Regions from separate parts of the Homo sapiens genome. Here region 2 is linked to region 1. Evidence: fine-mapped expression QTL. A gene starts in region 1. The other region holds a variant in brackets. All regions are shown on one strand. Distances are from middle to middle.

Evidence for each region. PIP is the estimated chance that this variant, and not a neighbour inherited with it, causes the effect.
Region 2: its variant is fine-mapped to the expression of TRIM17 in esophagus muscle (GTEx, PIP 0.94).

Annotation. Positions count from the first base shown.
Region 1 is chr1:228,414,537-228,418,923 of GRCh38, forward strand. TRIM17 (tripartite motif containing 17) reads right to left here and starts at 2,325. Exons shown (of 7, transcript NM_016102.4): 1 at 2,003-2,325; 2 at 108-577. The coding sequence starts at 536. RefSeq lists a silencer at 1,784-1,893.
Region 2 is chr1:228,444,106-228,448,492 of GRCh38, forward strand. It overlaps LOC124904538 (a long non-coding RNA gene), which reads right to left and starts at 927. Exons shown (of 2, transcript XR_007066919.1): 1 at 1-927. The variant ACCCG/A (reference allele first, on the strand shown) is at 2,272.

The sequences.
Region 1 (4,387 bases):
GGCCACTTTGTCCCTGGACACCTCCTCCCTCCCCCATGATCTGGGTCACCTTGTCCCCCTGGATGCCTCCTCCCCGGCCCCTTGACCTGGGCCCCGATGTGGCCTACCTTGTACCCCTGCACTGCCTCCTCGGCGGGCAGCACCCTGTGCAGCCGGTGCTCCCGGGACTCCCTGCACACCACACAGATGGGGCTCTGGTCCTTCTGGCAGAAAAGCTTGAGGGGCTCGTGGTGCTCCTGGCACAGGTCTTGCTTCTGCAGACCAGGATGCTGCTGCGCCATCTCGGCCACCTTGGTCAGCAGCCGGTTGGGCAGCAGGTTCCTCTGCGGGGACATCTCTCTGCACTCGGGGCAGGGGAAGGAGCCCTTCCGCTTCCGCCTCCCCTTCTTGCCCCTCGCCTTTTCCCAGCTCAGCTGGATGCAGGCTCGGCAGAAGTTGTGGCCACAGGTGGTCATCACAGGGTCTGTGAAGTAATCCAGACAGATGGAGCACGTAGCTTCCTCCTGCAGTTTTCTGGCGAGTTCCACAGCCTCCATGGCTCCTGGGAGACACGAGGCAGGTTCCCGCTTGAGGGACTCTGGAGAGAGTTGGAGGGAGCAGCCCGATGATCTGGGCGCCGGCAGTGTGCAACCGTCCTGTACAGCCTCCCTTTACAGAGGAGGGCTAGGACTGCAGTCCAGTTAGAGAGTCCAGAGTCATCATTTTTAGCCTTGTCAACAACAGACACAGATGCCTCCCCAGAAACTACACAGACCCTCCCTGACCAATGCTCTGCAGGCCCCTCCGCCTCTCCTCTCCACTGGGCCTGGACCCTACCCGTCCACTTCCGCCTGCTGCTGGCTACCCCCAGCTCCACATCTCATCAGCTCCTCCTCCCCGACAGACCGTTGCCGGCTAGGCCTTCAACCTGCCTTTCTGGAGAAGCCTGCTAGGTCAGCTTAGGGAGAAGCCCCTACCCTTGGAGCCTTCCCTTAATCACTTTCCATCCACTGACCCCACCCAGATCCCCACTCCAACTCCCCCATACATCCCCAGCTGTCTTTGCTGGCGCAACTCTCCCATTGCAAGTAGCCTGACTAAAGAGCCTTTCAAATGTCAGAATTTTTTCTTTAACAAAACCCCGTACACCAAAGGAAGAAGGGATGGGCTATCAGAGGAAAAAAGCTCTCTTCCATTCGGTAGTGAGGTGGGGTTCAGAAAAAACACGCGTGTGCATGTACGCACAGACGAACACCCATACACATACCCATGTATGTATACAAACGTGCATGTGCACACACGCATACCCACGCATACACACCACACAAATACAAACATGTACGCACAGAAACACTGATCCACAAACACAGCACACACAGGCACAGATGCACATATCGGTAAACATACATGCATGTACACACAGGTACACGCGCGCACACACGCACAGGCACACAAGCATGCACATAGATGCCCCCTGCAATCTCAACACTCGCGACCCCACGCAGTGGAGATCTACAGACTTTCGCCTACGCCACGGGGTTGCTATGGGGACCGAGTTGCAGAAGGAGTTGAAAATCGCGTCTACACTGCAAGCACGATTCTCCCCTTCCGTTCTGCCATCCCCTAAAGCGAGGGCGTCTAGGGGTCTCAGACTTCCCCGGCTCTGTCCCACGTCCAGTTTCTCGGAGCTTTCTGCACGCCAACCACCCGGCGCCAGCCCTCCGACTCCCCCCAAGAGCCCTAACGGAGGCACCCAGCCCACCCTGACCGAAGCCGGGCAGGGACAGCGGCAGCGGGCCTGGGGCTCTGGCTCTGGCTGCCGGGATGGCTGTCCTTCCCGCTCTGGTCCGCTAGGGTCCCGGTAGAGTTACCTTGTTGAAGCGCGCTAGCCCCTCCAGGGACGCGGCGGCCGGCGGAGGCGGGAAGGCCGGGCGTTGGAGGGCGAGGAGGACCGGGTTAGGCTTAGGTCGTGGCCCAGGCGCCACAGGAGGGTAGCCTAGGCGGCGGGGTGGGGGCTACTCACCGCGGGGAAGGGGGGCCCGCACAGCGCCTAGTGCACCTGGCCGAGCGCTCGCTGCCGGGAAAGGCTGGGTCTGCCCCCACGAAGCCCAGGAGGCTGCGGCCCGGCCCGGGGCGTGGGGACCTGGGGTCGGGAGGCCTAGGGACTTTGTGGCGTCAGCGGGGGCTGGGGGGCGGCGGGGGAGGGGAATGCTGGGCGAGGGAGTGTTCGGCGGCCGGGACTGGGGCGGCGCCTCTTAGGAGAGGTTGGGGGTGGCTTGGGGAAGGAAGGCGGCAGGGGGTGGAAGGCTCTGGACGAGCCGGGGACAGGCGCAGCGGGTGCTGACTGGGCGGTGGGGAGGATGTGGTCCACAGCCCAGCGAAGGGAGGAGTCTTGTTGGCCTGGGGTGGGACTTTTAGGGGAGGTTAAGGGAGTGTGGAGGGTGGGGAGTTGGGGGGTTACTTGGGGGTGGGGAGTGGAATGGGGACAGCTGGTGGGGCTAGGGGCGGGCAGGCGAGCGTCAGGGTGGGGGGAGTGGGATTGGAAGAGGCTTCTCAACCTGGGGTTGGGGCTGCGGGAGGGCACGCGAGCCCCAGGCTGGAGGGTTAGGTGAGGGGCTAAGTTGGTCGGGGTAGGGGATGGAGAGGAGTTTGTGTGGGCTGGGGTGGGGGCGAGGCAGCAGGAGCGAGTGCCTGTTGAGAAGCTATGAAGGGGGTCCCCAGGAGCAGCCAGTCAGCCGCCAGGTCTGCCCACATGGTTGGCAGTCAGCATCAGGCTGAGGGTACAGGGAGGGGCGTCCCAATCCTGTGGGCGGACCAGTTTGGAGGGACCACCTGGCAGGTCAGGTCCCCTAGAACCAGGCGGGACGGGGTGGGTCTTGCCGACACCCCAGGTGGTTTTGTTACCAGAAACAGGTCCTGATCCAGACCCCAAGAGAGGGTTTTGGATCTTGGGCAAGAAAGAATTCGGGGCAAATCCATAGAGTAAAGTGAAAGCAAGTTTATTAAGAAAGTAAAGGAATAAAGAGTGGCTACTCCATGGGCAGACCAGCCCCCAGGGCTACAGGTTGCCCATTTTTATGGCTATTTACTGATTATATGCTAAATAAGGGGTGGGGTATTCATGAGTTTCCCAGAAAAGGAAGGGCAATTCCAGAAACTGAGGGCTCCTCCCCTTCTTAGACCATATAGGGTAACTGTGACCTTGTCTTGGCATCTGTAAACTGTTGTGGCACTGGTGAGGGTATCTCATAGCATGCTAACGTATTAAAATTAGCATATAATGAGCAGTCATGATAACCAGAGGTTATTCTGGTCGCCATCTAGGTTTTGGTGGGATTTTGCTGGCCTCTTCACCACATACTGTTTCATCAGCAAGGTCTTTATGACGTGTATCTTGTGCCAACCTCCTATCCCATCCTGTGACTTGGAATGTCTAACCTCTGGGGAATGCAGCCCAGCAGGTCTCAGAATTATTTTACCCAGCCTCTATACAAGATGGAGTTGCTCTGGTTTAAAAGTCTCTTACGGTTTCAGCCAAAATGCCGCCCCCAGCCCTGCCCAGGTCCTGACTGGTGGCCATTTCTCCTGGCCTTGAGTCCCCACGCCTAGTCATCACGCTTCATCCTCCAGTAGAGGGATGCACCTTTCACATGGAGGGTTCATCTCCTGCTTTCAGGAACAGGAGCCAGAGGCCTGCGTGCCCTGAGTCAGAGTCCTGGGATTGGAGAGAGAGGACAGATGAAGAAACTAAGGCTTGGCCCACACAGGGGGTGCAGACAGGCAGGAAAACAGGGCCTTGAAGGCTAAGAGGCACCATTCTGCAATCTCCTGGGTGTGCGGGTGTAGACAGCTGGCCACAGGCATAGATGGCTGGCTTTCCCTGGGCTCACTCGGTAGAGTGTTTCTTCTGTGGTCTCTCATCACTCGCACACACAAAGGGGTCTGTGTGCTGTCAGGTGCGGGCTGGCTGCGCACACTGGCCGATTAAGTGAATTACCCTTGTGAACCCAGAATATCTGAGGCTAGTTTAAGTCAATTAGGAAGTTTATTTTGCCAAAGTTAAGGACACACGCCCATGACACAGCCATGTGCCCAAGGTGGTCCGAGCACAGCTTGGTTTTATACATTTTAGGGAGACATGAGACATCGATCAATATATGTAAGATGAACATTGGTTCCATCCAGAAAGGCGGGACAACTGGAAGTGGGGAGGGGGCTTCCAGGTCATAGGTAGATAAGAGACAAATGTTTGCATTCTTTTGAGTTTCTGATTAGCCTTTCCAAAAGAGGCAATCAGATATACATTTATCTCAGTGAGCAGAGATATGACTTTGAATAGAATGGGACGCAGGTTTGCTCTAAGCAGTTCCCAGCTTGACTTTTCCTTTTAGCTAGTGATTTTGGGGCC
Region 2 (4,387 bases), 30 kb after region 1:
TGTTTGTCTTTCCATATCTGGCTAATTTCACTTAACGTAATGTTCTCATTTCACCCCTGTTGTCACAAATGAGGGAATTTCATTATGTTTTAAGGCCGGAATAGTATTTCATTGTACATATGTACCATATTTTCTTTACTCATTCATCCGACAATGGATACTTAGGTTAACTCCATGTCTTGGTTATTGTAAATGGTGCTGCAGTGAACATGGTGCAGATCTCTCTTCTGGATACGGATTTCATTTCCTTTAGATATATCCCCAGCAGTGGGGTTGCTATATCGTTTGGGAATTCTATTTTGAATTTAATAATGTTTTCCATAATAACTGTACTATCACGGTGATTTTGAAGATCAATATATCTCCACAGGGTAGACAGCTACACCATCATTAAAAAAAGAGAACAGTGGCCGGGCGTGGTGGCTCATGCCTGTAATCCCAGCACTTTGGGAGGCCAAGGCGGGCAGATCACAAGGTCAGGGATTCGAGACCAGCCCGGCCAACATGGTGAAACCCCATCTCTACTAAAGATACAAAAAATTAGCCAGGCATGGTGACGCAGCGCCTGTACTCCCAGCTACTTGGGAGGCTGAGGCAGGAGAATCGCTTGAACCCAGGAGGCAGAGGTTGCAGTGAGCCGAGATCGCACCATTGCACTCCAGCCTGGGGGACAGGGTGAGACTCCATCTAAAAAAAAAAGAGAACAGTGAAAATGAGAGACAAAAGTAGCTGATTCCCAGCTTCAATTTTGTCTATAATACTAATTTTCATGAAGAGCAACATAAACTCCTTGGAGTGCAGTTAAGTCCATATCTGGAGTCAAAAAAACAAAAATTCAAAACAAAACAAAACACCCATGATAGGTCTGAAATAACTTTTTGCTGTCAGAAAGCAAAGATGAGCCGGGTGCCAGTGGCTCACACCTGTAATCCCAGCACTTTGGGAGGCCGAGGTTAGAGTTCAAGGCCATCCTGGGCAATATAGGGAGAACCTGCCTACAAAACAAAACAAAACAAAAACAAAAACAAACAAACAAAAAAAACCAAAAACACGCACACACACACAAAACAAAAAACCAATTAGGCGCTGTGGTACTCACCTGTAGTACCAGCTACTTGGGAGGCTGAGGCGGGAGGATTGCTTGAGCCAGGAGTTTTGAAGCCACAGTGAGCCTGATTAGGCGGCAGAGCTAGACCCCGTCTCAGCAAAACAAAAACAAAACAAAAACAAAAGCAAAGGTGCTTCCAACAATCAGGGTGATCCTAAAATGACAGAGCAGCGTTTTGAAAATACCTCCCCGGGGCTGCAATGTGACCATTTGAGCACTAAAAACAACCATACAAATGGTTAATTAGAACATGCCCCATTTATAAAAGGAGGAAAGTTAACATACACGTTTCTAATAAGACAACAAAAGGATGGAAATAACATTGTGTTGAATTTTTGTTGATTTTGTTAAAAAGGAGCGCGTTGACACATAGGGGGATTTTGTTTCTTTAAGTTCATGTCTGTTTATATAAAGTTTAGGTCTGGGTGTGTGTGTGTACCTGTGTAAGCAGGAAAGAGTAAACAAAATCGAGAGCCCGGGACAAATGCACTTAAGAAGGGGCGACGGGAGGGCCAGGCTCGCCGGGCTGAGTGCTGAGGAGGGGGCGCGTCCCACCCATGCAAGCCCGGAACAAAGGCGCCTGTCACTCGTCACTCTCCACGCGGGCTGGCTCTGGAAAGCCCAAAGGAAAAAACCCTCACTTTCAGGAAGAATAAGCCTCAGCCCATGTATCTAGGGAACACGTGATGCTGCAAGAAACCAGTGACTTAACGCGTGTAAAAGCAGGAGAGCGTCAGAGGTTCTGACCCCGGGGGAGGAGCAGACCCGCGGCAGCGTGCGGAGACTTAGCGGGCGGAATCTGCCACCAACGCAACCTGGCCCAGAGGTTTTGAACTGACCAACTGGGAGACGTCCCCGAGCTTGAATAAGGGCCTCAAAAGCTTAGCGTTTTATGCAGAGTCGCAACCACCCAGCGCTGGGAACCTGAGCCTGCACAACCCACTAGAAAGCACCCGTGACCGTCCCCTGCGCCCGTTATCCCTGCGCCCCGCACCCCTGTATCCCCGGCTTCTCTGCAGCTGTACACCCTGCACTGCGGCGCCCCCCAGTCCCGCTGTCCGCTCCATCGCGCAGGTCTCCAAAACGAATCCCGGCTTGGAGGGGCTCAGCGGCCCTGGGCCTGTGCGCCGTTGCGGCCGGGAGGGTCATTTTCATGCCTAAGG[ACCCG/A]CCCCTTGCACGCAACCTCGGGTAGCCAGCCGGAAACGGCGTCCCGGGCTCCAAAGGACATCTCTTTTTACATTTCAGCAAAACAGCCGCACACCTTCTCCCCAGATGGCCTCTGTGCAGCCTGAAAATGCCCGCTCCCTCCAAGTCCCTGGGCAATTGCTGGGACGCATCTCAGAGACTGCGCGGGGCGGAGAAGGGGTATGTGTTTGGGCCACTAATTTGATTTTCTTGGAAACTTTCTTCCAGTCCAAACCGGAGTCAGCTCCTCTCACCCTTGTAGAAAAGCATCCCGTGGGGGCGGGGCGGGGTGGGTTGGGGCCCAGCGTTGGGGGGTTGGGGGGGCGGTCAACACACCACCCTCCCGCCCTTTGTTAAGCTATTGAAGTTCAATTTCATTCCTTCTCCGTCTTCCATTGACCAGAGAGGAAAGGAATCCTTTGAATTTTTTTTTTAAGTTCATCAAATATCCATTTAGCATCTACTATGTGCCAGGCATAGCTGTTAGTACTTGGGGTGAACGCATCAGATGAAAACATGCCTCCCTGGAGCTTGCAATTTAGTGGAGGAGGAGGTGAGAGTAAACGTGAGGTGATGGCACGGTGTTGGAGGGGTGTTCACTATAGGCAGAGGGCGCCAGGAGGCCGGTGGTCGCGTAGGACAGGGAAGGCTGCAGTTGGAGAGCAAACCTGGAGGAGCAGCCGCGGTAAGGCCCAGAGTGCGAAGACGCCGCGTCTAAGGGCAGCAGAGGGGACCTGGAACTGGAGGGTTGGAAGAAGGGTGGTCACAGGCAAGCAGAAGGGGGCCTCAGAAAGACTGGACCTTGTTTTGAGTTTTTGGAGGAACCTCCGTCCTATTTTCCGTGATGGCTGCACCAGTTTACATTCCCCTCAACAGCGTGCGAAGGGTCCCTTTTCTCCACATCGTGACCAACACTTGTTGTCTCTTGTCTTTTTGATATTAGCCATTCTAACAGGTGTTCGGAGACATTTCATTCTGATTCTGATTTGCATTTTCCTGAATTTTATTTATTTATTTATTTTTTGCGACAGGGTCTCCCTCTGTGGCCCAGGCTGGAGTGCAGTGGTGCAATCTCGGCTCACTGCAACCTAGACTTCCCGGGCTCGAGGGATACTCCCGCCTCAGCCTCTGGACTAGATGGGACCTCAGGAACGACCACGCCCCGCTGATTTTTAAAAATTTTTTGTACAGACGGAGTCTTCCTATGTTGCCCAGGCTGGTCTCCAAAGCCTGGGCTCTAGCAATCCTCCCACCTTAGGCTCTGGGATTAGAGGCATGAGCCACCCTACCGACCCTCCTAGATTAGTAATGTTGAACACCTATTCATATGCCTGTTGGCCATATGTATGCCTTCTTGGGAGAAATGCCTATTTAGGTCCTTTGTCTATTTTTAAAGTTAGGTTATTTGGTTCTTGTTTTGGTTTTGTTTTTTGCTAATAAGTTGTAGGAGCTCTTATATATTTTGGGTATTAACCCCTTACCAGATGTTTGGTTTGCAAATGTTTTCACCCATCCATAGGTTGCCTTTTAATTTTGTTGATCCAGCCATCTCACTTCTGAGTATGCCCAATGGAAATAAAATCACTGTCATAAAGAGATACTTGCACTCCCATGTTAATTACAGCACTATTCATAATAGCTGAGATACAGAAACAACCTAAATGTCCATCAGTGAATGAATAAAGAAAACGTGGTATAGATATTAGTGTTACATGCTATACTACACTATAATAATGAAAATTATTCAGGTCTAAAAAAGAAGGAAACCATGTCAACAACATGGATGAACCCAGAGGACATTATGCTAAGTGAAATAAGCCAGGCACAGAAAGACAAATAATACTGCATGAGCCAACTTATATATGGAATCTAAAAAAGTCAGGGGCTGGGTGAGGAGGAGTACAAAGCTTCAGCTATAAGATAAGTAGTTCTGGAGACCTGAAGCACAGCATGGAGACTCTGGTTAATAACATATCATGGACATAAAATTTACTGAGTAGATCTTACATGTTGTCACCGCACACACAGACACATGCACACACACACAGGTAACCACATGAGGTGATGTGTGTGTTAATTGATTTGACTGTGGTA